Homo sapiens: one gene and its partners. The protein of the gene in region 6 purifies or fractionates together with the protein of the main gene of each other region. This does not show direct contact. Each region holds a gene or a part of one and is shown on either strand. Other genes may lie near its edges.

The links.
Region 1: the proteins of PCDHA3 (region 6) and LONP2 purify together in Homo sapiens (co-immunoprecipitation; 2 studies listed by BioGRID and IntAct, with this or other methods). This does not show direct contact.
Region 2: the proteins of PCDHA3 (region 6) and ABCD4 purify together in Homo sapiens (affinity purification with mass spectrometry; 2 studies listed by BioGRID and IntAct, with this or other methods). This does not show direct contact.
Region 3: the proteins of PCDHA3 (region 6) and NUS1 purify together in Homo sapiens (affinity purification with mass spectrometry; 2 studies listed by BioGRID and IntAct, with this or other methods). This does not show direct contact.
Region 4: the proteins of PCDHA3 (region 6) and TMEM63B purify together in Homo sapiens (affinity purification with mass spectrometry; 2 studies listed by BioGRID and IntAct, with this or other methods). This does not show direct contact.
Region 5: the proteins of PCDHA3 (region 6) and GAS6 purify together in Homo sapiens (affinity purification with mass spectrometry; 2 studies listed by BioGRID and IntAct, with this or other methods). This does not show direct contact.
Region 7: the proteins of PCDHA3 (region 6) and SLC12A4 purify together in Homo sapiens (affinity purification with mass spectrometry; 2 studies listed by BioGRID and IntAct, with this or other methods). This does not show direct contact.

The regions. Positions count from the first base shown.
Region 1 is NC_000016.10:48,267,745-48,272,055, reverse strand, and holds part of LONP2 (lon protease homolog 2, peroxisomal), read right to left. Parts: intron 2,041-4,311; coding exon 1,782-2,040; intron 1-1,781. UniProt on the Homo sapiens protein: ATP-dependent serine protease that mediates the selective degradation of misfolded and unassembled polypeptides in the peroxisomal matrix.
Region 2 is NC_000014.9:74,296,035-74,300,345, reverse strand, and holds part of ABCD4 (lysosomal cobalamin transporter ABCD4), read left to right. Parts: intron 1-77; coding exon 78-196; intron 197-670; coding exon 671-798; intron 799-2,276; coding exon 2,277-2,416; intron 2,417-3,896; coding exon 3,897-4,013; intron 4,014-4,311. UniProt on the Homo sapiens protein: Lysosomal membrane protein that transports cobalamin (Vitamin B12) from the lysosomal lumen to the cytosol in an ATP-dependent manner. Targeted by LMBRD1 lysosomal chaperone from the endoplasmic reticulum to the lysosomal membrane.
Region 3 is NC_000006.12:117,705,879-117,709,068, reverse strand, and holds part of NUS1 (dehydrodolichyl diphosphate synthase complex subunit NUS1), read right to left. Parts: intron 2,145-3,190; coding exon 2,054-2,144; 3' UTR 1-2,053. UniProt on the Homo sapiens protein: With DHDDS, forms the dehydrodolichyl diphosphate synthase (DDS) complex, an essential component of the dolichol monophosphate (Dol-P) biosynthetic machinery.
Region 4 is NC_000006.12:44,153,464-44,156,507, forward strand, and holds the end of TMEM63B (mechanosensitive cation channel TMEM63B), read left to right. Parts: intron 1-212; coding exon 213-380; exon of another isoform or gene 381-514; intron 515-609; coding exon 610-725; intron 726-901; coding exon 902-982; intron 983-1,228; coding exon 1,229-1,420; 3' UTR 1,421-2,056; downstream 2,057-3,044. UniProt on the Homo sapiens protein: Mechanosensitive cation channel with low conductance and high activation threshold. Osmosensitive cation channel preferentially activated by hypotonic stress.
Region 5 is NC_000013.11:113,853,489-113,857,799, reverse strand, and holds part of GAS6 (growth arrest-specific protein 6 precursor), read left to right. Parts: intron 1-4,311. UniProt on the Homo sapiens protein: Ligand for tyrosine-protein kinase receptors AXL, TYRO3 and MER whose signaling is implicated in cell growth and survival, cell adhesion and cell migration.
Region 6 is NC_000005.10:140,982,557-140,986,867, forward strand, and holds part of PCDHA3 (protocadherin alpha-3 isoform 1 precursor), read left to right. Parts: coding exon 1-7; intron 8-4,311. Other genes in the region: PCDHA1 (protocadherin alpha-1 isoform 1 precursor), read left to right, coding at 1-7; PCDHA2 (protocadherin alpha-2 isoform 1 precursor), read left to right, coding at 1-7; PCDHA4 (protocadherin alpha-4 isoform 1 precursor), read left to right, coding at 1-7; PCDHA5 (protocadherin alpha-5 isoform 1 precursor), read left to right, coding at 1-7; PCDHA6 (protocadherin alpha-6 isoform 1 precursor), read left to right, coding at 1-7; PCDHA7 (protocadherin alpha-7 isoform 1 precursor), read left to right, coding at 1-7; PCDHA8 (protocadherin alpha-8 isoform 1 precursor), read left to right, coding at 1-7; PCDHA9 (protocadherin alpha-9 isoform 1 precursor), read left to right, coding at 1-7; PCDHA10 (protocadherin alpha-10 isoform 1 precursor), read left to right, coding at 1-7; PCDHA11 (protocadherin alpha-11 isoform 1 precursor), read left to right, coding at 1-7; and 4 more. UniProt on the Homo sapiens protein: Potential calcium-dependent cell-adhesion protein. May be involved in the establishment and maintenance of specific neuronal connections in the brain.
Region 7 is NC_000016.10:67,951,144-67,955,454, forward strand, and holds part of SLC12A4 (solute carrier family 12 member 4), read right to left. Parts: intron 3,631-4,311; coding exon 3,500-3,630; intron 1,283-3,499; coding exon 1,041-1,282; intron 895-1,040; coding exon 680-894; intron 162-679; coding exon 1-161. UniProt on the Homo sapiens protein: Mediates electroneutral potassium-chloride cotransport when activated by cell swelling. May contribute to cell volume homeostasis in single cells. May be involved in the regulation of basolateral Cl(-) exit in NaCl absorbing epithelia.

The DNA of each region.
Region 1 (4,311 bases), on a different chromosome or scaffold from region 6:
TCACGTGCTTATGATGTCAATTTCACATAGCATTAATTCCACGAACTCACTCTCTAAATGCCATCAAATACTTACTCTGTAGCTAAAATTAGAAGATTTAGGCCCTAGACGCAGCTTCTTTGAGTTTGGTCCAAGAGAAATGCCAATTCCTTTACGAAAGCAAACTATAGCCTCTAGTGGTACATGCAAGAATAAGAAGTCTAGGCAACAAAAATATCTTTTGAAATTGCCAGAAGAAATCACCCAAATCAATTCTCTACTCTGATCTGCACGCCTCATTGTTTATTTACTAAAATCTTGTGATGAGTCTTTTTTAAAATTTATTATTATTATTTTTTTAGAGATGGGGTGTCACCAAGTTGCCCAGGCTGTTCTTGAACTCCTGAGCTCAAGCAACTGCCTGCCTTGGCCTCCCAAAGTGCTGGGATTACAGGCATGAGCTACTACACAAGGCCAGTAATGATACTTTTTAAATGCGTAAGAATTTTAAGTGAGCAAATAAAAGAGAATAAAAATAACCATTTCTTATAGAAAAGTTTCTGAAACAGTTTCCCATCCCTGTCTATGGATAGGGATCCCTTTGAATAAGGCACATAGAAAACAAGATATTAAAAAAGCATCATATTCTTTTATAAGCAGTTCATGGTTCCTACATTTAAACATGTTCTTTAACACATACACTATAGGTATGTTTTCTCACAACTTACAATTGCTATGAATCCCTTAAACCACGAAATGTAAATTCATGCTTTCCCAAGGCAATTTCCATCAGATCAACAAAGAGACCAGTGAGAACAATGAATGCAACATGCAAATCTGATTCTAATAATGTCAGATTAATCAGAAACAGTTTTGTTGTTGTTTGTTTGTTTGTTTGTTTGAGATAATGTCTCTGTCTCCAGGCTGGCGTGCAGTGGGACAATCATGGCTTACTGCAGCCTGGACCTTCCCAGGCCTAAATGATTCTCCCATCTCAGCCTCCTGAGTAGCTGGGACCACAGGTGCATGCCACTGTGCCTGCATAATTTTTTAATTTTTGTGGAGACAAAAATTAAAATTTAAAATTAAAAAATTTAAATATAAATTTTGTAGAGACAAAAGTGTTTCCCTATGTTGCCCCGGCTGGTCTCAAACTGTTAGGCTCAAACAATCCACCCACCTCAGCCTCCCAAAGTGTTAGGATTACAGGCATGAGCCACTGTGCCCAGCCTAGAGGGACAGTTCTTACAGTTTATTGTTTTTTTATAGAAAGTGAGTCCAAAATGCAAGAATAAGCCTTAATAATTATGCTAACATTTATCCTTATTACTCATATTCATAATACAAACCAACCTTCATAAGAGGAAGTTTAGACTGCAATCAGAACAAGTTTGTTATCAAAGACTTCTCACCTCCTCCTATTGGCCCTCCCTATTGCAGTTACTTTTTTTAACTCTGAGAGTTAGGGATCATTATTTATGGCATGCTACTGGGTTGAAAAGAGTGTAAAGACATAATAATATCCAATCATAAATAACTTATAATTACATTCAAATGAGATTCCAGGAAAGTTGAGGCACAGAGTAGTATCCACTGTCATACAAATCAAGGTTAGTTTGGGTTTATCATTACGCTTAGAGGCTCTAGGCTAGCTGATACTTCTTGTAAATGTCCTTTTCATTCAAGGTACCACACATAGCCCTTTAAGGAAAATAGATGTATGCTATGCCTAAGCTTTTAGGGAGCTCTAGTCAATTAAAAAGAAAGAGGAATCAGAGATTAAACTGAGAGAAGTGTTCTACCTGTGTCCTCGAATGTCAGACTGATCACATACTCCTCCAAGTGCAATCCTGTGGAACTCTCGACCTAGAGTCTTGGCCACTGATCTTCCCACACTTGTTTTACCAACTCCAGGAGGGCCAACAAAGCATAGGATTGGGCCCTTCAGGTTATTTTTGAGCTGTCTGACAGCCAAGTATTCCAGTACTCTTTTCTTCAATTTTTCCATGGCGTAATGGTCATTATCCAGAAGAATCCGGGCTGCCCTAATGTCCAGGCGGTCTGTCAAATAACCCAACAGAAATAATTAGAACACATAAAATTTTTAAGTTAAAGAACTCCTTTCAAGCATGACGAGGGCAAAATATTTTTTTTGAAAATAGATGTGATAAGAACAGACTTGGATCTTTCTAGATGAGGATTCTAGGAGATCTGCATTTGGTTTGGTTTCTCTGCTTAAGACTTAGTGTCCCCAGAGATAGTAGGCACTACACAATTAAAAACTCAATGTTCATATCATTTTATTTGGAATGATTTTCTAGTTATGCATTACTTCTTAATTTCTACATATTGTATGTGTGCTGGCATTTGTTTTTTAAAAAAAAGGGTGATTTTTTTCCTTATTTCAGTAGTAACATATGTTCATTCCAGAAAACCTGATAACACTAACAGAAAAGAAGAAAACAGTTACCCATAATCTCATGCCCCCAAGAGATCACCACTACCTTTACTTCAGTATGTGTAATTCCAGGCTGTGTGCGTGCATTTACAAACCTATTTTTCAAAATGGGATTTTATGGGGCCTTTAAGTTTTGTAAAATGTTTTTTTCACTTAATATATGACAGACAACTTTCACTGTCACACATATATTTATCAGTAACATTCTATGGTTACTTAATGTTCCATTACTAAATTATCTATATTCATTTAACTAATTCCCTACTGCTGAGCATTCAAGTTGTTTACACATCTTTACATTTATAAAAGATGCTTCAACTGTGCATCACTGGAACTAAATCTTCCCATATATCTGCAATGATTTCTTTCAGCTTATCTTCTATGAACAGAAGTGCTGGGTCAAAAAAAAAAAAAAAAACAGATGATGTAAAGAATTGCCTAATTGCCACACAGAAAGTTGTATCAAAGTCTCACCAGAAGTGTATGAGTTAGGCTTTGTTTCTAGAGCCAAGCTTTCAACAGGTTTACTAATAAGATTTAGCATTTAAAATACTCAGATTAAACACCAGGTAACAGAAGCCAAAATGAATTCACTAGCTGGGTGGCTGCCAGGGTATAATACACAGCCACCTGATCATGCTGGCAGTGAAAGAAGAAGATGGGAGAGAGAAATACACAGAAATCTTTTAATTAATTAATACATATCTTTTAATTAATTATTTAGAATTTGCTAAGGATATTTCATAAAGGAAAAAAATGGCCTGAGATGGTAATTTGGTTCCCAAGCTAGTCCCCCAAAAAACCTAGCTAAGCAGTAAACTATATAATTTAATTATAGTACTATTGATTTTAGTCAGAGTCCTAGGTGAGTGAAGTAGGAGAAGAACAACTAAAATTTCTTCCCCCTTTCCTGGCTCCAGAACCCAACCAATGAATATATGAAGAAGTGAAAGATAGAGAGTTTCTCAATTGTTTCACAGTGCTAGCCCTGACACTAAAACCTACCACAGTAAACATAAAAGAAAACCTCAGACAAATCTTTTTATATAGCTGTAAATATTAAAATGCTAGTAAATCAAATCTATAAAGAATAATATACTAAGTCCCAGTGGGATTTATTTTAGTTATGCAAACATGGTTCAGTGTTAGGTCATCAATGTCATCATGTTCAAGAAGAGTAAGTTTCCATCAAAATATCATCTTGTACCTAAAAAGGTACTTGTTATAATGCGTTATCCATTCATGATTAACACATTCAGTAAGGTAAGAATAAAAGTCAAGATAATTTAGAAAAGACTGAAAACACTGTGAAGAAATTTCTTGCAAGAAATATGCCAAGTAAAGACAATTTTAAAAGTTCTTTCAATCTTTTAAGTAAAGGTGATTTCCATGCTGTATAAATTATTTTCTATCTTTTCTATACAGGATATATTTTTCTAATTATTCTCTTTAATGATTCAGAAAGCATGCTTCCTGTTTTGAATAACATGTGATTACATGTAAAAAATTTTTCAAATTTCAATATAAATTTCCTTATTTATAATTAGAAGATTGAAATGGTATCTACTGACTCCTCTAAGCTGGGAAAATCTGCAAACATATTTCCTACAACTCTTTCCTCTCTGCTTTCCTTTTTGTTTTCGGTTACTATCTGAGATCTCTACTTGGTAGGTAAACTTCTCTTTCAGAAATTATGAATGGGGGGCCAGGCTCGGTGGCTCACACCTGTAATCCCAACACTTTGGGAGGCCGAGGTGGGAGGATCACTTGAGGTCAGGAGTTCGAGACCAGCCTGGCCAACATGGTGAAACCCCATCTCTACTAAAAACACAAAAATTAGCTGGGCATGGTGGCAGGCGCCTGTAATCCCTGCT
Region 2 (4,311 bases), on a different chromosome or scaffold from region 6:
TGGATGAGCTTAATAACTACTCCCTAAGGCTTAATTATTGTCTTGGGCTTTTCTCTGCCTCCCCACCTTCTCTTCAGGCCCAGGTTAGATCTGCAATTTCTCCAGCGGTTCCTGCAGATACTGAAGGTTTTGTTTCCTTCTTGGTCATCACAAAATGCCTTGATGTTCCTGACCCTTTTGTGCCTGACCCTACTGGGTGAGTGAGTGAGCCCAGACTAGAGGAGGGAGGGGAGCTCTGGTTTGGGGTCCCTTTCCATCTTTTTTTTTTTTTTTTTTTTTTTTGAGACAGAGTTTCTCTCTTGTTGCCCAGGCTGGAGTGCAGTGACATAATCTCAGCTCACTGCAACCTCTGCCTCCCTGGTTCAAGTGATTCTCCTGCCTTCGCCTCCTGAGTAGCTGGGATTACAAGCACCCACCACCACGCCCGACTAAACTTTGTATTTTTCAGTAAAGACAGGGTTTCACCATCTTGGCCAGGCTGATCTCGAACTCATGACCTCAGGTGATACACCCGCCTCAGCCTCCCAAAGTGCTGGGATTACAGGCGTGAGCCACCGCGCCCGGCCCCTTTTCATCTCTTTGGGGTGCTGATGAGGCAGGGACTCAGGAAGAAGCCTCCCTTCTTTTTAACCCCTCATCACTGATTTCTTACTCCTCTCCCTCCTTTCAGAGCAATTTGTGATCTACCAGGTTGGCTTGATCCCCAGTCAGTACTATGGGGTCCTGGGAAACAAAGACTTGGAAGGGTTTAAGACTCTGACATTCCTGGCTGTCATGCTCATTGTTCTGAACTCCACGGTAAGATCTTTCCCTCTCTCTGTGTCTCTCGTCCTCTCCAGTCCAGTGTGACCGTAATGCCTAGTGGAACTTAGCCTCCAGGAAGCAGGAAGCAAGCTGTGGGGGTGTGTTTCCTCCCTTTTCTGGGAACTAAAGGGATAGTTGCCTTTATTAAGCACGTTGATCTTGCTATTGGCCCACGTGGGACTGATTCCTCAGATGTTTCCACTCCTGGGCCCAGGCCACAGGTTCTGGTTTAATTCAGCATTTAGCAGAACTGATCATTGCCCCTTTCCTTCCTAGAACTCTTATTTCCGGCAGCTCATTAAAACGGCTCAGCAGCCAGAGCTGCTGCTCCTCCTCTGCGGGACCGAGGCTGTGACTCACCCTGGCACCATGTCACACCTCCCAGCCTTTGAACAGTGCTTTCTTGCAGAATGGCCTCCTCCCCTACCCCTCATTCAGTAGGGGGGCTACCACCTGCTCACTCTTCGTCATCCCTCCGTTGTCACCTCTTTCAAGTCTTTCTCAGCTTTCTCCTTTGTGTCTCCTCCACCAAACTCTGCCCTTTTTCTGTACTTAACGAATTCCTTGAGTTTACCTCGCTGTAACACTCCTCACACGCTTGTAATTGTTTTCTGGCTAAACTGTGAGCTCATAATGTCCCTAGTGCTTAGCACATAGGTGCCCTGGAAATGGTAAATGATGAGACTCAGGGCTGTACCAGAACTCAAGCCTAATGCTGTCTGCCAGGCTGTGCCACCTGTTTTCTTGGGGAAGCCACTGCTCATCGTACCATGGCCACTTTTGTTGGGTCTTCGGTCAGTAAGCACCTATGCATACAAATCTCTGTCCCAAGCTTGGGGGACAAAGGAGTAAGAACATAAATGGAATCGACAATATGGTCTCCAATCTTCAGAAGCTCATCTACTCTCAAAATAAGACAGTGTAGAAAGAGGGTCTTGCCTCTGGTAAGCCCTTTAATATTTGGTGAAGGAGGCTGGGTACAGTGGCTCACGCCTGTAATCCCAGCACTTTGAGAGGCCGAGGCGGGCGGATCACCTGAGGTCGGGAGTTCCAGACCAGCCTGACCAAGATGGAGAAACCCCGTCTCTACTAAAAATACAAAATTAGCTGGGCGTGGTGGTGCATGCCTGTAATCCCAGCTACTCGGGAGGCTGAGGCAGGAGAATCGCTTGAAACTGGGAGGCGGAGGTTGTGGTGAGCCAAGATCGCGCCATTGCACTCCAGCCTGGGCAACAAGAGTAAAACTCCATCTCAGAGAAAAAAAATTTGGTGAAGGAATGAACACGTGAGTGAGTGAGGAAGGGAAAGTCCCATGACTCGATGATTTAAAAAAGAAAAGTGCTGAGTGGACGGAGTAATCAGAGTCAGAGTGGGCTGGGATGGGTCAGCGGAGGCTCTTGCGAGCCTTGAGCTTTGAGCTGAGATTTTCAGGAAGCCATCTCTCCCTTCCCCTTGCTTCCCCCACTGCACAGCTGAAGAGCTTTGATCAGTTCACCTGCAACCTGCTGTATGTGAGCTGGAGGAAGGACCTCACTGAGCACCTTCACCGCCTCTACTTCCGGGGCCGTGCGTACTACACCCTCAACGTGCTGCGGGATGACATCGATAACCCGTAGGCGCCCCAACTCAGTCCTTTCTACACTCTGTGTGGTCCTTTCCTTCTGGCCTAGCCCTGGAGACTGCTGGTGGCAGACACCAAGGAGATCATCTGCAGTCGTTTTCAAATGCTGCTGCCCAGAGTCATGGGGGAGGGTGCCCTGCAGAGGACTCCTGGAGAAGCTGCAGGGCTGTGAATAGGCAGCTAAAAAGAAGAAGCCTGCCAGGTGCAGTGGCATGCACCTGTAGTCCCAACAACTCAGGAGGCTGAGGCAGGAGGATCACTTGAGCCCAGGAGTAGTGCACCGTGAGCACACTTGGGAATAGCCACTGTACTCTAGCCTGGGCAACATAGCAGAAACCCCCATCTCTTAAAAAAAAGAAAAATGTTAGGAGCAGCTTTCTTTTGTCCTTTTCATACTTTATATCTTAGTCTTCCAGTAAGAAGACTAAGGGGTTTCTTTAGAGGGTTCTAAAGAAAATGTCCTTGCTAGAAAAACCAGCTCTTAGATTTTCATCAGTAAAAAAAATTACCACTATCCAGGACTCAGTCTAGGATTCACATCTCCATTCTATCACCACTCAGGTTATAACTCTTAAAGTCACCAAGCCCCAGGTTCCCCTTCTGTAAAATGAGGACAATAATAGTTCCTATCTCAAAGGGTGTAGTGAGGATGAAATATCATTCATGTAATGCACATGTACAGTGCTTGACACATAGCAAGTGTTTCAGTGTAAGTTAGCTATTGTTATTTTACAGATGAGGAAGCTGAAGCCCAGAGATTGCAAGTGACTTGCCCAAGGTCACGTCACTCATTGGGAATAGGAATCAGTATGGCCCTAGTGGTGAGATGAGACATAGGGGGTCTCCTTCACACCCATCCCCTCACTCACCACCTTCCTAGCAAGCACTTTGTTGGTTGGGGTACCTCTCAGCTCAAGCTTAGCTTTGGTGCAAAGATGCGTGGGAGGCTGCTGCTGCTGCCTAACTTCTAGGCCTCTTTCTGATGGCTATGGCTTCCATCCTGCCTCTGCCCCCTGAGTAGCTGGGACTACAGGTGTGCCTCACAGCCTGGAGCTTTCACAGCCAGATAACTAAAGGGGCCAGGCTAGGGCTTATATAAGAGAAATTTGGGAGGATTGAGATAAAGGGGATAGTCTTCTTGATCATCCAAAACAGCTCATCTACCTTCAAGTTTTTCTTTGGCTCTGCTCAGAGCTGGCTCAGGCCCCTGGGTACTGGACCTTTCAGTTCCCACTTTTTCAGGGGATTAACTAAGGCACCGTAAGATGCAACTCTCTAGAACCCTGTTTAAAGGCCCTGGGATTTAGTTGCCCCTAGGAAACCAGCCTTGTCTGGTTCCCTCTTCCCATAGGGTCAGTGTTCACAGCACTGTGAGGCAAGGTCAAGAGCAGAGGTGATGTGAAAGTTTCTTGTTCTCTCTACCTTTGGGCCCATCTCCCTGGGTCCAGCTACTCTGTGTCATTGGCTCCAGGGACCAGCGCATCAGCCAGGACGTGGAGCGATTCTGCCGGCAGCTCAGCAGCATGGCCAGCAAGCTCATCATCTCCCCGTTCACCCTCGTCTACTACACTTACCAGTGCTTCCAAAGGTGAAGCCTCCCTCCTCCCCAGCCTGGTGTTTCCCCAGAGGGCCCTCAGTCAGCTCTCCCAGGTCAAGGTCCAAGAGAAGCTTATTTCCCCTCTCTCCCACCGTACCTTACCACGTGCTCACCCATCCCACGTGCTCAGGCCCCTGCCCTTCCTTTGGCCCTGTGTTGCAGTGTCACAGATATCCTGGCTCTGAGAGCTCATACCAGATGCCCCCACATAGGAGCAGAGGGCCCATTGGGCCACTCAGATTGGACAGGGGCTACCTGAGAGGGAACAGGAGTCAGGGCTGAGGCATGT
Region 3 (3,190 bases), on a different chromosome or scaffold from region 6:
GTTTGTAGTTTGCCTCTTCCTAGAACTTCAAGAGACTCAAATCATAGGCTACAGATGTACTTTCAAGTATATACTTATGAATGGAAGGAGAAAATAAAAGCACGAAAATGCAAATATTAAACCTTTACTGGCTTGGGCTATATTCCAGTAGGTAATTTATTTGACTAACTTAACTTTAACAACGATTAAATCCCTTCATTTTAATCAGGTCCATTAAATTTCATTCATTAAAGCTATACATACTCCAGAATGTTTATAAGACATTTATACCTATCATGTTTACAAAAGGCATAAATTCAGTCTTCAGCTGCACTACAAATGCCTCAATATAATATAATCACAGTATAAGGAATCAGAAATTCTCTGGTTAGATATGCTGTAGCTTCACACAAAACTCTCAGTAATAAATTAAAACAAAAAAAAAAAGTCGTACAACGTATAATGGATTATGCAGTGCAAAGTAATGTCACTGGACCAAAATTTAGTTTAATCATTTTTATTTCAAGTGTATTTAAAAAATCATAAATGGGGTTTCATAATCCAAAGTTGAAACATTTATTCTTCATAGCTTCAGAATTTAACAACCAATTGTAGACCATGCTTTCCAAATCCAGTCTTCTTTGCTATTTTTCAAAACTTCTGAGATCTAGTATTAAACTGCTCCATTCTAAATGTATAGTTTTAGATAAGTATTGTACACTTGTTGATAAGGGTTTTCTGAAAGCAGTCTATCAAATATAAAGAATGGTTTCTATCTAAGAATCAGCAGTGAGGGAAGAAATATTAAACACCTATCAAGAAATCAATTATTCATTTTAAAAATAACAGAACCAGTGCTGCTCTCTGTCATAAAAGAGAACATGTAAAATTTATTTTTATAGACTTTGGTAATATTTTATTCCCCCACAGAGGCCTTCAATCCTACTTAAAGATATTTTACACACAGTAACCATCAGGATTTACTGAGTAAAAATCTCAGGTATTAACCATGCCCCTAAAATGTGCTATTCCAAAGAGGAACAGGTTACTTTTGAGGAAAAAAGCTGCCTTGGTAACTTCCCTCAAATGTTTATTTTAAATAAAAATGGTTGATGGAAATATTTTTTAAAAGAACTTTGGGTATAATATGGCATACTGCCCATCAAACAAAAAAGGAAATAAAACTTTCTTTCCATTTATAATAAGTTTTCCACCTTTACTATCAAGATTACAACTTATTGACCTTTTATGCTTGCTTGGTTTTTTTGACTGCCTAATCCAATGTTTAAATTTTTAAGTCTGCATTTCAATGTAGTAGGAGTTATTTTTCAAATAATCTTCAGAACCCAGAATACAGAGCAACTCTCAGAATACCAGAGCAACACTCTCAAGTCATACTTTTGAACCCAGAATACCAGAATACCAGACTTCAGAACCCAGAATACCAGAGCAACACTCTCAAGTCATACTTTTGACTACAATTAAGAGATGAAAATGGACGGATATCTGAAGATAGGTATTCCCTCTGCTCTGAAGGTGAGCAAGATTTTAACATGTGAGCAACACAGAACTCCACTCCTCTGGAGCTCCTTTCAACTCAGAATGCTTCAGTTCAGTAAGTCAATATATTATTCTTAAAAATTAAAGTTTGGTCACTAAGAAGGACTGAACAAAAATTATTCCCCTCCCGCCAAACACAACCAGAACAGTTCTAATCAGGCCCTCTTCTCCCCACAAAAATAGGGAAGTAGCTGGGCTGAAGACTTTAAGTGTGACATTTCAGTTCCTAAAACATCACTGCTATTTGCTCAAAGTTGTAGGTCTATGTATTTCCTTCTCCAATACGTCCCCATTTATAAGTTTATTTCCATACATACAAACGTGCACATGTGTGCACGTGCACACGCACACACACACACTCACTCTCAAGTAAGACACTTTTTTGTGTTTGTTGATAAATTATGAGGATTATGAACTAGGTGTGTACAGGGTTTCATAGGTGCTTTGTAAACATCAGAGTCACTTGGTTCCTTTCCTCCACAAGCCTCAAATCAAATTATGCAACCAATGACCACTACTTTCCCAGACGCTGTTCACAGGCTGCATATTGACGAAGGGCAGAGAAAAAGTCCTCATAACTGATGTTTAGGTGGGAAGGCAAAGAGCTGAAAAGAAAACACGGGGGGAGAAAAGCAATTAGATATACACTGTAATGTAGGGGGGAACCAGAAGATAAGGACCAAAAAGAAGTTAAGAATAGAATACACCAAATTATCCTCCACCAGACAGCACCATGACAGGCACGGAAAATGTCTTAATCATAATATGTAGACTGAAAGGGTGGGGCCCTGACAGAACTGACTGGGAAATAGCAGAGAGCCTCTGAGGCACCGAGGGGTAGTGGCACTCACTGTTTATTGACGAGTGTTCATTGAAGATAGCTATTCCCTCTGCTCTGAGGGTAAATTATAAGCAGAATATGCCAAACAATTCTACTAAGATTGTTCAGCTCATTGTGGACAATGAGATGACAAGGACACACAATGTCATCATCAACTAAAAAATTAATATGCCTCTTTTTCCACAAGAAAAGCAACTAGTAATGAGAGATTCATAACTTGTTAAAGCGTAAGCTCAGATTAATGCAAAGCTAGAGATCTATGTATAAAGGATCTCATTTAAATCCATTAAAGAATTTCTCCTTGGTCAGAGTAAAGCCAATATTACTTAGTTTAGGAAAGCCATGCTTAATGTTGGGCAGAGCCACACAGCATCCAAACATGATGAAATATTGTAGCCATGTTGTGAGCAACCTAGAAATCAACACTTACCTCCACCATTTCCAATTACTCAAGGGCAATTACAGTGTGAAAATAAGCACTTTAAAGATAGACTGAATACACAATCAGAGGGTTCCCTTTTATGTATTAGAAGTAACTATTAATTTTAAATAAGTAACATGAAAAACATCTGTAATTTATGTAGCTTTATAATGTGGGAATTCCAAATAGTATCAGGGTCAAACACCTGGTCAGAATAGAAGAGTCACAGTCAGAGTCCTACAGTCACATGCACCACAAAAAAAGAGTGAACAAACCTACCTTGAAAGGACTCCTGCCTGTCTTTAGCTATACTTTTCTTTATCCTTCCTCAGACTGCCAGAAATTCTGCAATAAGTCATCCACTTCTAATTCCTCATCATCTCTTAATA
Region 4 (3,044 bases), on a different chromosome or scaffold from region 6:
TCCTGATGAGGAGAGTAGAATGAGGGGTTGTAGCGGAGGAAGCTGAAGTTCTGTGATCACGCTGGGGCACGGGGCACTATCCCGTCCTGGGGCCCGGGCAGGAGGAGGGGGCCAACCCTTCAGCACTCTCAGGACCAGAACAACCTGTGACAGACACACAAAAGGTTCGGCAGCACTGGTTCCGAGGTCAGGGCCCATGTGGCTTCCCTTAGGGCTCATGTACATGCTGCTGAAGCACCTGGTAGACAGGTACAATCTCTACTACGCCTACCTGCCGGCCAAGCTGGACAAGAAGATCCACTCGGGGGCTGTGAACCAGGTGGTGGCCGCGCCCATCCTCTGCCTCTTCTGGCTGCTCTTCTTTTCCACCATGCGCACGGGTGAGGGATCCCTACCCAGGGAACGGGGGGTGGCGAGCAGAGTGGATTCCAGCCAGAGCAGGCCACAGGAGAAGCCGCATGGCTGGGGGTGGCAGGCAAGGGGCCTGGGAGAGGCTGGGGCCAGTCTGTAGCACCTGGGAGAGTGAGGACTGCATTCAGAGGGTATCAGAAGCTGGGGTGGGGAGGCCCACAGGAGATAGCAACCCCATTCTTTGCCCCCCAACACCAGGGTTCCTAGCTCCCACGTCTATGTTCACATTTGTGGTCCTGGTCATCACCATCGTCATCTGTCTCTGCCACGTCTGCTTTGGACACTTCAAATACCTCAGTGCCCACAACTACAAGGTGTGGGGCAAGGGTGGCAGGCGGATGGCTGCGGGCAGGAGCTCAAGGGGAGGAATGCAGAGGGCCACAGGGCTGGCGAGGGCTGAGGGCAGCGCCAACAGGGCCAAGCGGGCGTGGGGTCATGATCAGGGCTGAGGACATGCCCCCACTTCCTGACTCATTCTGGGCCCCTCAAGATTGAGCACACGGAGACAGATACTGTGGACCCCAGAAGCAATGGACGGCCCCCCACTGCTGCTGCTGTCCCCAAATCTGCGGTGAGTGCCCTCAAGGGTTGGGAGGGGCCTCTGACAGACTCAGCCTCAAAGCCCAGTGTTCCCTTAGTCCTGCAGAAAGGGGAACCTGTGCCAGACCCCATGGGGGCGGGAAGAGAGCTGGTCTCCCTGGAGGGCTGCCCCCGCCCCCCAGGGCCCTGCCCACTCTGCTGTCCTACATGCCCTGGTGTTCCCGCAATCCATGAGGGGCAGCTGTTCACCTTGCCCCCATTTCCTCTCCTCCTTCAGAAATACATCGCTCAGGTGCTGCAGGACTCAGAGGTGGACGGGGATGGGGATGGGGCTCCTGGGAGCTCAGGGGATGAGCCCCCATCATCCTCATCCCAAGATGAGGAGTTGCTGATGCCACCCGACGCCCTCACGGACACAGACTTCCAGTCTTGCGAGGACAGCCTCATAGAGAATGAGATTCACCAGTAAGGGGAGGGAGGGGCCCTGGAGGCCACATCCTGCCCCACCCCACCCCCACTCCCACGGACACTAAAACGCTAATAATTTATTAGATCTAAAGCCCCTTCCTCCCCAGCCCCTGCTTTCATTAAGGTATTTAAACTTGGGGGTTTCACTGCTCTCCCCCATGATGGAGGGAGGGAGCCCCCCAACCTCAGTGAGGAGAGCCCCGAGCCGGCCCCGGGGCAAAGAGGGGTGCAGAGGGAGTTCCCCCAGATCAGTACCCCCCACCCCTCCCCAGCTAGTAGCATGACCAGGAGAGGGTTAATGAGAGCCAAGAGGAGTACCTGGTGCACCTGGTGCCGGTGGCTGGAGACCTGGGGGGCAGGTGGATCTGGGGCTGTTCCCCCCCCTCCGTTTTTTCCACCCCACAGTTCCTCCTGGGATCTGGCCCTCCAGGGAAGTGGAGCCTCCAGCCCCTAGGGGATGCATGAGGGGGGAGGGGGTGCTGAGTGGGAGGAAGAGTCAGGCTCACAGCTGGGGTGGCCTGGGGGTGGGGGTGGGCAAGGCTGACACTGGAAAATGGGTTTTTGCACTGTTTTTTTTTTGGTTTTTTTGTTCTTTTTTGTTTTTTTCCTTTAAAATAAAAACAAAGAAAAGCTCTGAGGCAGGTGTCTGACTTGTGCTGCCCTGGGCACCTGGGCCGGGTCCCCACCCTCCTATCTGGAGGGCCTCTTTGAGGTCCCTGCATGACGCTGGGCAAGGGACTTGTTCAGAGTCTCATTTCTGTGTCACTGAGAGGAGAGAGTGGGGCTGGGGAGAGACTTAAGGGATATCTCAGAGGCAGGAAGGGCCCCTGTGCCCAGGTGGCCACCATACCAGCCTCGCCCACTCTGATCATTCCCCTGAGTCCCTGAGCAACACACATGGGACAGAGATTCAGGGAGAAAAGGTCGTGCAAAGCCACAGGGTCCATGCTGGGCCAGGACGAAGGCCCTTCTGAGCACCTCAAAGTAAGCCTGGCGCCAGCCCATCTGTCCCTTCCCCAGGAGGGCCTGATCTCCTCAATGAGAAGCCCCCTCCCACCCTCCAGTCAAATCTTACCCATTCTCCAAGACCCAGCTCAAATTCACCTTCTCGCCAGGCGCGGTGGCTCACGCCTGTAATCCCAGTACTTTGGGAGGCCAAGGTGGGTGGATCACTTGAGTTCAGGAGTTCGAGACCAGCCTGGCCAACATGATGAAACCCCATCTCTACAAAAAATACAGAAATTAGCTGGGCATGGTGGTGCACCCCTGTAATCCCAGCTACTTGGGAGGCTGAGGCATGAGAATCACTTGAACCTGGGAGGTGGAGGCTGCAGTGAGCTGAGATCATGCCACTGCACTCCAGCCTGGGCGACAGGGCAAGACCCTGTCTCAAAAAAAAACAAAAAAAAATCACCTCGAAAAAAGGTCCTGTGACTGCTGTAGCCCACCCTGCAAAGGCCCACAGAGCCATGTGGTGCACACCCACACACATGCACACACAGCATGTACTGCATGTACTGTAGGAGGCCTGCATTCCAGTCCTTATTCTGTCACTAAATCACTTTGCAACCCTGAAGAAAAGGAAGAAAAAGGAACTCTTAGAGGGAAGAAAAGAGACCTCAGAG
Region 5 (4,311 bases), on a different chromosome or scaffold from region 6:
CCGGAGAGCTTCACATCTGTGGAAAACTCTAATTAAAGACGTTTTGAGAAACGCTGAACGTCTCCCTTTGTTATTTAGGAACAAAACACTCTTTTAGGAAGCAAGTGCTTATGGCTTCTTTCTTGAGATTCTGAGTAAAGGGGCGTTAAGCTTGCTAGCTGGGGCATGCTGAGCACTTCCCAGGTTATGGCTTTACCCCAGAGCGATTGACAGGCATCCAGGTTTCCTCATGCTTCATTTTCCCCTGTTTTCTAAGGTTAAAACTGAGAGCTGTTTCTCCAATGCAAAGCTGCTTGTTTAAGGGTTTCGTATTTGATGTTGGAAATGCTCTGGACTCTTCCATGGTTTTTATATTCCAGTGATTTCACTGCAAACCTGGTGTGTACGCCTTGTAAATTTTGACCCTGGCCAAGTGAAAGGTTCATTTTAAAAGTTTTAAAATAAATTTTAAAGGGGAGCTGGAAGTGGAATAAGTTAAGAACAGTATCAGTTTTGCCTTTCACTCTGACAGAGGCACTCTCTGCTCTGACTGACGGGTGTTGATTAAAAGTATAATATTCAAAAGAAATAGTAAAGTGCATTGGGCCTTGTTAATGTTCTACTAATTTTCTGGGGCTCCGTTTTCAAATTATAGGTGAAATTTTTTTCCTTCCAGTGTTAGTGCCTATGATAAGAAAATACATTTTCTCCACATCTGTCCACAAACCTGCTAGACCCTGTTTTGTGACTACCTCCCCTTGGAACTTGGGGCTCCATGGAAAACACACAGCTTGACCCAGCCAGCCCTCAGAGAGCCTGGGCCGGTCACTGCAGTGGCTGGATTCTCAGCATAAAAAGGCCAAACGTTCGGCCAGGCTGGGACTGGCTCCCATCCAGGACCAACTGTCCACAGTACAGTAAGGCCACTCTCTGAGTCAACATTGTTTCTTTTCTGAATTGCTAAGTTGACCGTCCCTGCAGAAGCAGAGAGGGCTGCGGTGTGGCATTCCTGCCCACTCCAAATGAGGGCAGCCCGGACGCGGGAGCTCTCAGGGAGGCGCAGTGGGCTTTGGGTGTGTCTGGACTGTCTCCACCACACCTGGAAGATACTGTTCACTTCCTTTTTACACTTGTGGGAAATACATGACAGTGTTTACGGGCAGGCTGGCTTTCCGTTTATTTCAACCCTGACAATTGAATAGCAGCAGCAGATGATGAAACTGTTCACTTCCCGATCACTCCCGTTCTCAGATCCATCACTTAGCTCGTCCGTCGCTCAGCTCGTCTGTTAGTCTGAAAGATGAATCGTGCACGGGTCCTCCTGAGAGTGCTGTTCTCGGGGTCTCCATGTGTGAAGTTGTTACATCCTCATGACAACTGTGTAACAGCTGTCACTGAGCCATTTTACAGATGTGGAAACTGAGGCCCTGAGAGGCTGTGGAGGGCTACAGTGTGTCCTGGGCATTTGAGCCCCACACTCTGTCATTAACTCCTGTGCTCGCTGGGACTGGGGGAGAGCAGGACGCGGCAGCACCCCCGGCCCCACTGTGTGCTCCTCTGTGTGCAGGCGACTGTGAGCATACTGGCACCCATGTGAGGGCTGAGTGGTGCTGGTGTGGGCGCATAAAGCACAGGGCGGCTGCGGGGAGCTGGGTGTGTGTCAGTGGCTCGGAGCATTAGTCTCGTGAACATGGTCTGCCAGGTGCGTCATGCTGGGCTACAGAGCCCATGGCTCCACCATAAATGGTGGTTTTGTGTTTGAACTTGAGTGTTGCTGCTCAGTGAGGCCAGAGGAAGGCACCAACCTGCAGGCCTGGCCGGTCCTCACAACACGGAAGGCAACCAGTCCACTAGAGAGACATGTGTCCCGGCCACTGGAGGAGTCCAAGTGACCTTTAAGTCTCACCAGTCCTCAGAGCAACCCAGGTGAATTTGGGGCCTGAGCTTGGTCGTCTGGCCGAAGACCAGCTCAACTTGGATAAAGCTGGAGGAGAAGCCTGTCCCTCAGGCAGCTGCCAGGGCATCTGTGATTTCTGCTTGCGTGCACTCTTGGCGACTATTGGTGGTGGTCGCAGTCAGGGCATCTGGTTGCCTTTACTGTCCTTACACCAGCTGGGCAGAGCTCAGGCTGGGAGCCCAGTGGGAGAGGCCGGGGCGTGACTCCCGGCGCAGAAGCGGCAGTGGCACACCGGCGTCCCAAGCACAGCTGTCCCTGCCAGGCCCCTGCGCGTTGGATCTTTGGGTTGAGTCATGCTCGATGGTGCAGCCATCCTTTCAAGGGAACTGAGCTGTCCAGCGTCCCATGGAGCAGCTCCCCGTGGATCCGGAGAGGCCGTAAATAAACCTCCCCATTTGTAAGCCGGGAACACACATGAACTTTGCAATCGTGTTTGTCCTGGGATCATAGAACGTGGTGGCTGGCAAGACCCAGGCATCCTCATCCTGTGCTGCTGTGAACAGAGGCCGGTAGCTTATTGAGGGACCAGTCCCAGTTCGCTTTCTGTGGGGAAGACTCTGATGGAAGCCTAGGCCCCAAACTCCAAGGTTAGCACATCTTCTTGGGGGGATTGACACCTCCAAAGGTGAACTTGGGTCCAAGGCACGTGTGTGCGACCTGAAGCATGGGTGCCGTGTGCAGGAGACGCCCTCACCGGAGATGGGGACCGAGTCCACACGGCTCTAACTGCAGAATCACTGGCCCTGTGCCCACGACTATTTTATTTTGCTGTTTTATATGATCACAAAGTACACTGTCTTGTTTTTCCCAAAGCATTTGCAGTGAGACATCCCACTTCCTCTCCACGGCAGCTGTTGCGGGCACGAGGCTGCTCCCAGGACAGCGATGCCACCGGGGCTGGGGTGGGCACGGAGGAACCCTCTTCCTTCCTCCTCCCCGCCCTCTGCTCCCCCACAGACTGGCCTGTCTTTAGTCAGCACTTTCCCAGGCTCCCTTCTGCCCACCACGTGCAAACAGTGGCGTGTCCTGGGCCTCTCTCCTTGTAGTGTTTCTTGTGGCCAGCATCCCTCCCATCCAACAGCTGTGTGGCTTCCTGACTGGCTTCTCTCAGGGCCCGCAAGGATGCTGCCAAATGGCCAGAGACAGTCACTGCTCTGCACTTCAAAGCAGGCAGCCCTCGGTGGGGCTTGCCCTGAAAGACAGCGGGCCTTCCTCGATGAGAGCCTGTGCTGGCTCAGGGCCTGTGGGGGCTGCAGCTCTGTTCCTTCCCTGCGTCCACGCTCACATGCTGAATGTTGTGCACCACAGGACACCCTGCTGGGGGCTGTCGGGAGCATGCTCTGTGTTTGGGGCAGAGACGGGCAGAGTGAGTCTCAGCATTACTGCCGTGCAGGGTTGAGTCTCAGCATGACTTCCATGCAGGGGGAGTCTCGGCGTCACTGCCATGCGGGGCGAGTCTCGGCGTTACCGCCGTGCAGCTGCTGGAAGCCACTCGAGCTCCTCTGTCTCGTTTGCCATGAAGCCCATGAGAGACACTGATGTGTGTCTCGGGGCTTCTGTGAGAAGAGCTTGGTTACCCACCGGGTCAGGCACCACGTCGGTGCTGTGAGGCATGGAGGGTGCTCACAGCTGTGCAGTCAGCTACAGAGGCCTTTCCCAGCATCCACATCTGACCGGGCAGTCACACCAGGATGAGCTCCCAGGAAGAGGGCTCCCAGCAAGGGAGGGCGCACCTGGGTGTGAGCTTGGAGGAGGGCAGAGGCACCTGTCACCGCTGACCCTGGGTGCAGATGGGCATGCCGGGTATACTGACTGTGCTTTCCTGGGGCCTGTCTCCCTCCAGGTCAGCCTGGGGTCCTCTGGGCTGGGGGCCATGCACTGCCTCCTGTGGGCAGTGGGATCAGCACTTCCACTTTGCTCAGGGCTAGAGCAGGCTGCTGCGGGTGTGAAGACTTAGGAAACGAATTCGGAAGGAAGGAAAGGATTTTGCACTTCCCAAGCTAGAAGAACATGAATAGAGCCGGGCTGCCAGGCCAAGGGTCTGTAAGACGGCGGCTCTTCAGAGAGTCTGCAAATGCTGAGAAAGGAAGGCTCCCCAAGGGCAGTTCCTGTGGGCGTTACTCTGAGTTTTCTCATAGAAGTCAAGTTCTTGGAAGACAGCACTATGGTCAAAGGGTTAGTGAATTCTTGTGACCATTTCCCATGGAAAATATCAGAGAAAGTTATGGTGTTGATAAACAGAGTCCCTGTGCTCAGCAGTCTCCACCCACTTGTCAAGTAAGATAAAGATTTTTGGAAACAAAATTTATGGCTGTTATTTGCTAAAGAGAGTAATACATTCTTAGCACACTCTGAAAAATAACCACTATTTGCTG
Region 6 (4,311 bases):
ACACCAGGTAAAGAGCTGGGGTCTCTCCATTCTTTCTTGGTTTCTGGAAAGTGATCAGATGACCTACTTTTGTAAGATCAGGAATGTTGATGGCTCTTTTTCTTTTATATTTTTGTTATTCCCTTTTTTCCATACATACATGATTTCCTTACATATATGATTATTTTGATTTTATACCTAATGCTCTTCAGGAGTTGAAAAAGGATAACAAGGAAAGTGTGTGTGCACGCATGTGTGCATGTGTGTGTGTGTGTATGAAGTTTTTGGGGTTTGTTTGTTTGTTTAAATCAGGTACCTTTCAAATGCTTAGGTCATCCAAGCCATGCAGAGAAGATCTGGTGGCCTTATGCACAGAGATGACACTGTTAACAAAGATCTTTTGGTTGAAGACTATGGAAACCCACCCAAAGTAGTAAGGAAAGAAAGAGAAAAAGAAGGAAAGAAAGAAAAAGGAAGGAAGGAAGGAAGATGGTTTCTCATGGAAGTGGAAAATTATCGGAACCAAGGCATTGTTTTGAGTTCAAGTCAAAGTCAATCTGCTTCTCTCTGCACATCAACAACATTCTGCAGACTGACTTTTAGTGCCTTGGCATGCATGTTGCCAAACATGACCGCCTCACAATTTCTTAGTTTAGAGGGATAATAGGGACTATTTCCTAATCCAAACTTTCAGGAAAGAGAACCTGCTAAGTTGTGTAAAAAACCTAATGGCTGGGTGAGTATAGGAAAATTGCTTAAACTCACATTTGCTTGGTATCCTTATTCTTGCCCTATCACTAAAGCAGGGTCATGTAATAGAAATATGGCTTTGGAGGCCCATCGCTGTGGCAGTTTTCAGAAAGGGAAGATTAAGTGTTGGTAGAGACCACAAATTGTGTCTACTCTAATCCTCTATTAATAGAACATCATGATGATAATAGTAGTTACTAATTATTAAGCCATAATATGCCTAGACACTGTGCCAAGTACATTGTATGTGTGGTCTCATTTATTCCTTAAGTCAAGCTTGCAAGGGATTTATTACATCTATTCTACATATGAGAAACTGGAGAGGCAGAGAGATTAAGAAATGTACCCAAGTTCACGTAGCTTGTAAGTGGCAGAGGGTAGGATTCAAACCCAGATGTGTTTAGTTTCAAATCCAAGTATATCTAGCACTTATATTCATAACATGGCTGGCTTGCAATAATCCATTCAAATTCAAATACATATCTACATACATAACAGATGACAGAATGTGTGTGTAAAAGGTTTTTTCCCAAAAATAATCAGATGCCTTTCAAATTATTAAGTAACATGCAGCTAAGGGCCCATTTTTACTGGCAACTTTAAGGGCATTCGTTGATTCTAATCAGCCAGGATTTGCTATTTATGGATGTTGCACAATTCAACTAAAAGTCACATTTGTCCAAAAAATATACGAGTTGAAGCAATTCATTAGAGAGCTAATATTGCCAGATTGCAAGGGGAAAAACATAAAATAGTTCATTGACAAATCTGTACCCTCAGTGCCAACGATGGAGTGAAGAAATGATGGAGGAGGAAGTGGTTTTAGACTGCCAAGTGTTGCAGGATGTGGAGGCATCTGGGAAGGTGAGAACTTCCCAAAGAAGCCACGTGAAATCATGACTTTCTACCTTGCCTTTATTTCAGAGTTTTTCTTGCTCTTATGGAGGCATTGTAGGTCGACCTGGTAAGCCACAAACTAACTTTGAATACATTCTCCCTCCCATTGGTGATGCTGGTTGGTGTGTATTCCTAGGCAAATGTGGAATAGGAACCATGTATTGATATTTCATACATCTGGCCAAGTCCCTCTTTCAGATTCAAAAAATGTTGAGAACCTATCTTTTTTACAGAGATAGAGAAGGGGATCTCCCTTGTTCCCTTTCTTACTGTCCCAGCCCCTCTTGTATAACCCATTTTATCCAGAACTGTGCCTGGCTGCTGATGCATGAGTCACAGTCTTCATGGACTGTGCTGGATAGAGCTTACATCTTCCAACTACTCCATGGCAACCTAATCATACTTTTCAATACATACCTCTGCATCAGTGGTGTAAAGTTAAAGGGATTCTCTGCCTTCTCCCTGTCCTTCTGGTACTTTTAGGTTTTTAGGACTCAATATATGTTCTGCACTGCTTGGAGGGAATATGGCATAAAGATTAAGATTATGATTTAGAGTCAGATTTGAGTTGAATTCTAATCCCAAGCTTACTTGCTGGGTGAGCATAGACAAACTGCCTGAATTCATATTTTCTTAATTACCCTTTCTGTAAATTGGGTGTAGTAATAATAATAACACCTATTTTATTGAGTTACCATGAGAACTAAAGGAGAAAAAAAGAACTGAGCATAGTGCTTGACATATAGTTAATAAATGTCTAATCTTTTTTTTTTGAGACAGAGTCTCGCTCTGTCCCCCAGGCTGGAGTCCAGTGGCACGATATCGGCTCACAGCAACCTCTGCCTCCTGGGTTCAAGTGATTCTCCTGCCTCAGCCTCCTGAGTAGCTGAGACTACAGGCGTGTGCCACCAAGCCTGGCTAATTTTTTGTGTTTTTAGTAAAGACGGGGTTTCACCGTGTTAGCCAGGATTGTCTCAATCTCCTGACCTCGTAATCCGCCTGCCTCGGTCTCCCAAAGTGTTGGGATTACAGGCGTGAGCCACCGCGCCTGGCCTAATCTTCTTACTCTTTTTTCTTTCTGGACTACTTTTCTGCAATCTATGATATAGTGTTGGCTGATAGCCTGGTGGCCAGAATTCAGTAGTTCTCATTTGCAGGCCCAGATATAGACCCTCTGAGGTTATCTGGGTCTATATAATCCAGTCACCCCAACTGTTCCCCTGGAAATGGAGTGAGGAGGATTTATTAGTTGCTGCCTGAAGAAAAGGGAAATGCTCCAAAAAATTTGGTTGTTTCCAGACTCAAATAGAGCCTGCCTTTCATTGATTCTGTTGCCCTTAAAGCTTCACGGTGAAGATGCAGTTGCTTCCAAAAGGCTTCTTTCTGGTGCCTAAGCCTCCTTATACTTGCTTCAGAGCCCTTTCCGTGAACCAGCTGTGTATTGCTCTTCTCATCCCAACACTTGCAATGGCTGAATAAAGGAAGTGGGGCCTGCCTTACGCTAATCCTCGTTCATATGTGTTTCTTAAAGTTATTTTTCCTTCACTGATGAATTCCTTTTTTTTTTTTTTTTTTTTGAGACAGTCTCGCTCTGTCGCCCAGGCTGGAGTGCAGTGGCACGATCTCAGCTCACAACAAGCTCTGCCTCCCGGGTTCATGCCACTCTCCTGCCTCAGCCTCCTGAGTAGCTGGGACTACAGGCGCCCGCCACCACTCCCGTCTAATTTTTTGTATTTTTAGTAGAGCCGGGGTTTCACTGTGTTAGCCAGGATGGTCTCAATCTCCTGACCTCGTGATCCGCCCACCTCAGCCTCCCAAAGTGCTGGGATTACAGGCGTGAGCCACTGCGCCTGGCCTCACTGATGAATTCTTTTGCTTTTTAAAGAAACTGTTCATTTATTTTCACAGTCTGCAAAAGCCTAAGATAAAGATGCCACACTCTGAAAGGATCAACAAGGGCATCACCAAGTAATGTTTTCTGCAGGATAAACAAGTCAGGCATTAAATTGGTTAATCCTGATTACTGGCCCCTTTCTCTAGCCTCCCCTCTGTGTGAGCAGACCCGGACCACAGGCTTTCTTATTTCCTTTCAGCTTCCCTTGAGACTGAGCAGAGAGAGAAAATTAGCTAAATCAGGAATGCAGGGAATACAGTTGCAGCCTCTTCTTCAGATGGAGGAATGCGTTTTGGGGGGAGGGACATTAAAGGGCCAGTCGCTCATGTTACAGCTCTTTTTAACTTCATGAGTACTAATGCCCTGAAGAGGTTTTAATGAATGCCCTCTTGTGATCAGTTCCTAGGGCAATCCCAGGTTATAAAAGGACTGCCCCTGCCTGTGAGGGAACTGGCCTGGCTTCAGTGGGCCAGGCTGCTTTGTTATCTGTTATTGGTTTTTCCAGCTCCTCTTTCTACATTTCAAGGGATCTCAGGCCTTACCTAAGGCAACAGTACATTAGTTTTAGAGTGGGAGATGCTCACAGTTTTCAGAAGAGTTCAGAAAGTTTCAAAACACACAGCACTGCAGAAGATAACATTATAGCTTCTCAAGACCCCAGGGGATCTGGGACTAAACAGTGAAAGATTAATTAGGTAGCGGAAGCCACTAAGGCAGTGAGTCTTAGTTAGAGAACTTTGGTTTAGACAATGGTTCTCAAAGGGGCAGCAACACCAACAATACCCGGAAAC
Region 7 (4,311 bases), on a different chromosome or scaffold from region 6:
TACAGAAGGGAAGAAGATGCCGACCAGCACGGTGAAGGATGTGGCGATGTCAGCGACCACGTACAGAGGCAGGCTCTCCTTCAGGCTCGGGGCATCTGCGGAGGGCAGCCCATGCTTCTCCACGATGTCACCCTTCTCCAGGTAGGCGCTCCACAGGTTTTCTGCAGGGGTAGCTGTGTCACCACCACAGCTGCCCCCCACTACCCCAGGTAGTTTGGGGCAGCCTAGCCAGAGGCGCAGATGCAGGGCAACTTTGGGGACTCAGGGAACAGCTTCAGCCCAATGACTGCAGCGTCAGCCACAGGGCTACCCTGACCACAGAGAAGGAGCTGCCCAGCTAGAAGTCGACAGACAAAGGTGGCTGAACCACCGTCACCCAGAGCCCGCCACTGCCCGCCTTCCACAGAGGCCTTTATGGATCCTGTGGGAACATCCCCAGGCAGTGTCAGGGGCTGGTGGCTGGGGAAGACAGGCTGCTGCAGGCCTTGGACGCTGGCCAGACAGGCTCCACTCACTCCAAACTCGGCTGCCAGGAGCCAGGCTGGGAGGACACTGGGGGGCTGGGAAGGCGGCCAGTCCTGCCCCCGTTCCCAAGCTGGCCACACAAGGACAGCTCTGTGCTCTGTGCCCCTGCTCAGCCTGTGGGCTCAAGAGCAAGACGACGGGAGGGAGGACCCACCCTGGAGCACACCAGCAGCTGCCCCGGGGATGCCAGGGATCTCGGTCACATTGTTGAGCATGAAGTAGGGGTCACAGGAGTCGGTCGTAAGGTTGGGGCTGTGGCAGAAGAAACTCCATAGCTGGGTGGCCACTGTCTCATTGTCCACTACAGCTGTCTTGGCACAGATGTCAAACTGGTCCCGGGACAGGGTCCTGTTGCCCAGCATGCATACCCTGTGAGGGACAGAAGCACCGGCACCTGCTCAGGTCAAAGCCCCTGCCTGTGCCCACCCTGCAGTCTCTGGGATCTGGGGCATCAAAGGCTGGCTACATGGGAGGGATGTCCATGCAATGCCCAGATAAATTCCTGGGTTACTTACGGAAACACGGGAGGGTCAAATATAGACTTTATGCCCCCAGCATAGATGGAGAGGATGGAGATGATCACACAGGCCAGGAAGAGCGAGGCAAATTTGTTCACATACTTGACCCCCACAAACACCACCAGGGTCATGAAGGTCAGGAAAATGGTCCCATACACACGCATATTGTTCAAAGTGGCATTCGACGTGTCATGAGCACCCGATGGGTAAAAAATGGCAGCTGGTGGGGCAATGTAGGTCTGAAACAAGAAGATGGATAAGGAGGGTTTTATTTCTTATTTGGAAAGTGAAACTTGTCGTTTTGGTTTTCTTTTTACGAGTACCTAAAAGAGGCCGGGCGCAGTGGCTCACGCCTGTAATCCCAGCACTTTGGGAGGCTGAGGTGGGGGATCACTTGAGGTCAGGAGATCATGACTAGCCTGGCCAACATGGGGAAACGCCATCTCTACTAAAAATTAGCCGGGCGTGGTGGCACGTGCCTGTAATCCCAGCAACTGGAGGCTGAGGCAGGAGGATCGCCTGAATCCAGGAAGCAGAGGTTGCAGTGAGCAGAGATCGCACCACTGCACTCCAGCCTGGGTGACAGAGGGGGACTCCGTCTCAAAAAAAAATAAAAAATAGGTCAGCGCCGTGGCTCACGCCTGTAATCCCAGCACTTTGGGAGGCTGAGGCGGTGGATCACTTGAGGTCAGGAGTTTGAGACCAGCCTGGCCAACATGGTGAAACCTCATCTCTACTAAAAATACAAAAATTAGTGGTGCAAAAACTGGTAGTAGTGGCACACGCCTGTAATCCCAGCTACTCGGGAGGCTGAGGCAGGAGAATCACTTCAGTCTCGGAGGTGGTGGTTGCAGTGAGTAGAGACCACACCACGGCACTCCAGTCTGGGTGACAGAGTGAGACCTTGTCTCAAAAAAATAAATGAATAGGCCGGGCGCAATGGCTCATGCCTATAATCCCAGCACTCTGGGAGGCCGACTGCCTGAGCTCAAGAGTTCGAGACAACCCCAGGCAACTTGGTGAAACCTCATCTCTACTAAAATACAAAAAATTAGCTGGGCGTGGTGGCATGAGCCTGTAATCCCAGCTACTCGGGAGGCTGAGGCAGGAGAATCACTTGAACCCAGGAGGCGGAAATTGCAGTGAGCTGTGATCATGCCACTGCACTCCAGCTTGGGCGACAGAGTGAGACTGCATCTCAAAACAAATAAATAAATAAAAATAAAAAATAAGAGTACCTAAAAGAAGCCAGTCACAAAAGGTCACATATTATATGATTCTGTTTATATGAGATGCCCAGAATAGGCAAATCCCAAGGCAGAAAGCAGATTCCTGGTTGCCAGGGCTGGCGGGGAATGGAGAGTGACTGCTAATGGGGGTTCTTGGGATGATGAAAATGTTCTAGAATTGACTGCGCAACTCTGTGAATATACTATAAAACATTGAATTGTACACTTTCAATGGTATATAAATTGGTATGGGAATTGCATGGTATGTAAATTATATGTTAATAAAGCTGTTACTTAAAAACAAGCAAACAAAAAGGATCCAAACATAGATGCCAACCTGAATCGTTAAATAGCCAAAGTGGAACAGTTTGAGCAAGAAAATAAATAATGATAGTATTGGATTACAACCCAAAGAATAAAGTAAATATCCAGAAGTCCATACAGATATAATGACATGGCTGAATAGATAAACAGGAGAAGGGACAAATCCCACATAATGAATGTAGAAGGGATATGAGAAATGAAAACAAGCCAAAGCCCCCCCAAATCAGAAGATTCAGGTGCAGGGTCCTGCTGCAGGTAGAGGACCTGGAGACAAGAACAGCCAGGCAGTCCCTCCAGGTATCTCCTACCCTCTGGATCCCCAGGGGCGGGCACCTGTCACCCCATGCCTCCCGCAGCTCCTTGCCTCTTCTCCCACTGGTACGGCAGTTCACTGGGGAATGAGAAGCTGAGGCTGACAGAGCTCCCATGGGGCTCGTGGAGGGAGCGCCGACCTCCAGCAGGGTTCTGTGGCTGCTTACCCTGATTGAAGGACAAGGAGAAGGTGGATCTGAAGTGCCCTGGCACAGAGCCCCGGAGGACACAGAGCTGGCCAGAGCTCACACAAGCCCAGAAGGAAGCCTACATCACCACCAAGATCTGTCACTGAGCTGAATACAACAGTTCCTGGAACCCTTGCCATGGCTGCAATGGTGCCCAGGTGGATGGAACATCCAGGGCCGAGGTGAAGGCAGCCAGGCCTCTGCCTTGCCTGGCCCAAACTGGCATGGAGGTGAAAGGAAGACCAGCCTGAGTAAAGGTCTTTGTCTCTCGAAGAGGCTTCCTACTTTATAATACCCAGGCCTTGGCCAGACATGTGGGGATGAACAGCCTGAGCCTTCTGTTTGGAGTCCAAAGGGACTGTTTGGACATGGCCAGAGTTGGCCAGGGCTCAGCCTGACTCACCAGCAAGATCTCGATGGCCCCCAGGATGTACATGGCTGCTGCGAATGTTGTTCCCAGGTAGAAGCACAGGCCCACAGCACCTCCAAATTCTGGCCCCAGTGAACGAGAGATCATGAAATAGGAGCCCCCAGCTACAGCAGAGAAATGAAAGTGTGCACAGGTCAAGGCTGGTTCTTCTTCAAGGGGTCTCCCTGTGACAAGCCTGCACAACCACCCAGAGGGACAGGGACTGCTTTTCCTGTTTGTGGATGAGTAGAGGGGCTGGGAGACCTACCCAGGGCTGCACGGTGGGTAAGCATCTAGGCTGACATTCGATCCTATCCCCATCTGACTCGAATGTCCAGCACGGCCCGTGGAAATAACTGCTTTGCGGGAGCAGCTCTAGTCTGCAGCAGTGGCTGACTGGCCACCATCCTCCAATGCCCTGTGCACAGCCCACAGCCTCCTCTGGCTGGGTGTGTCCTATCTCAGCCCACCTCACCCTCCTGAGGCCTGTGCCTTTGTTAGTCTGACTCCTCCAGACCAGAGGAGGGACTGTCTCATCCAGCCTTTTGGCCCTAAGGCCCCGCACAGTGCCTGCCACCAGGTGAGTGTCCACGGCTCCCTGCCCTGAATCTGTGCTTCTATCAAAGTCTAACACCCTTAAAAGACTCAGAGAGTCATGACCAGGCCCCAGGGTGACAAGCACAGGGGGACAAGAGTCATCTCATGTTGCTGGTTGTATCTGCTGCTGAGACAATGTCTCTGGTGAAAATCTGGGAACAGGGATCAAGAAATTCTTTCAAAGAGTCAATCTTGGCTGGGCGTGGTGG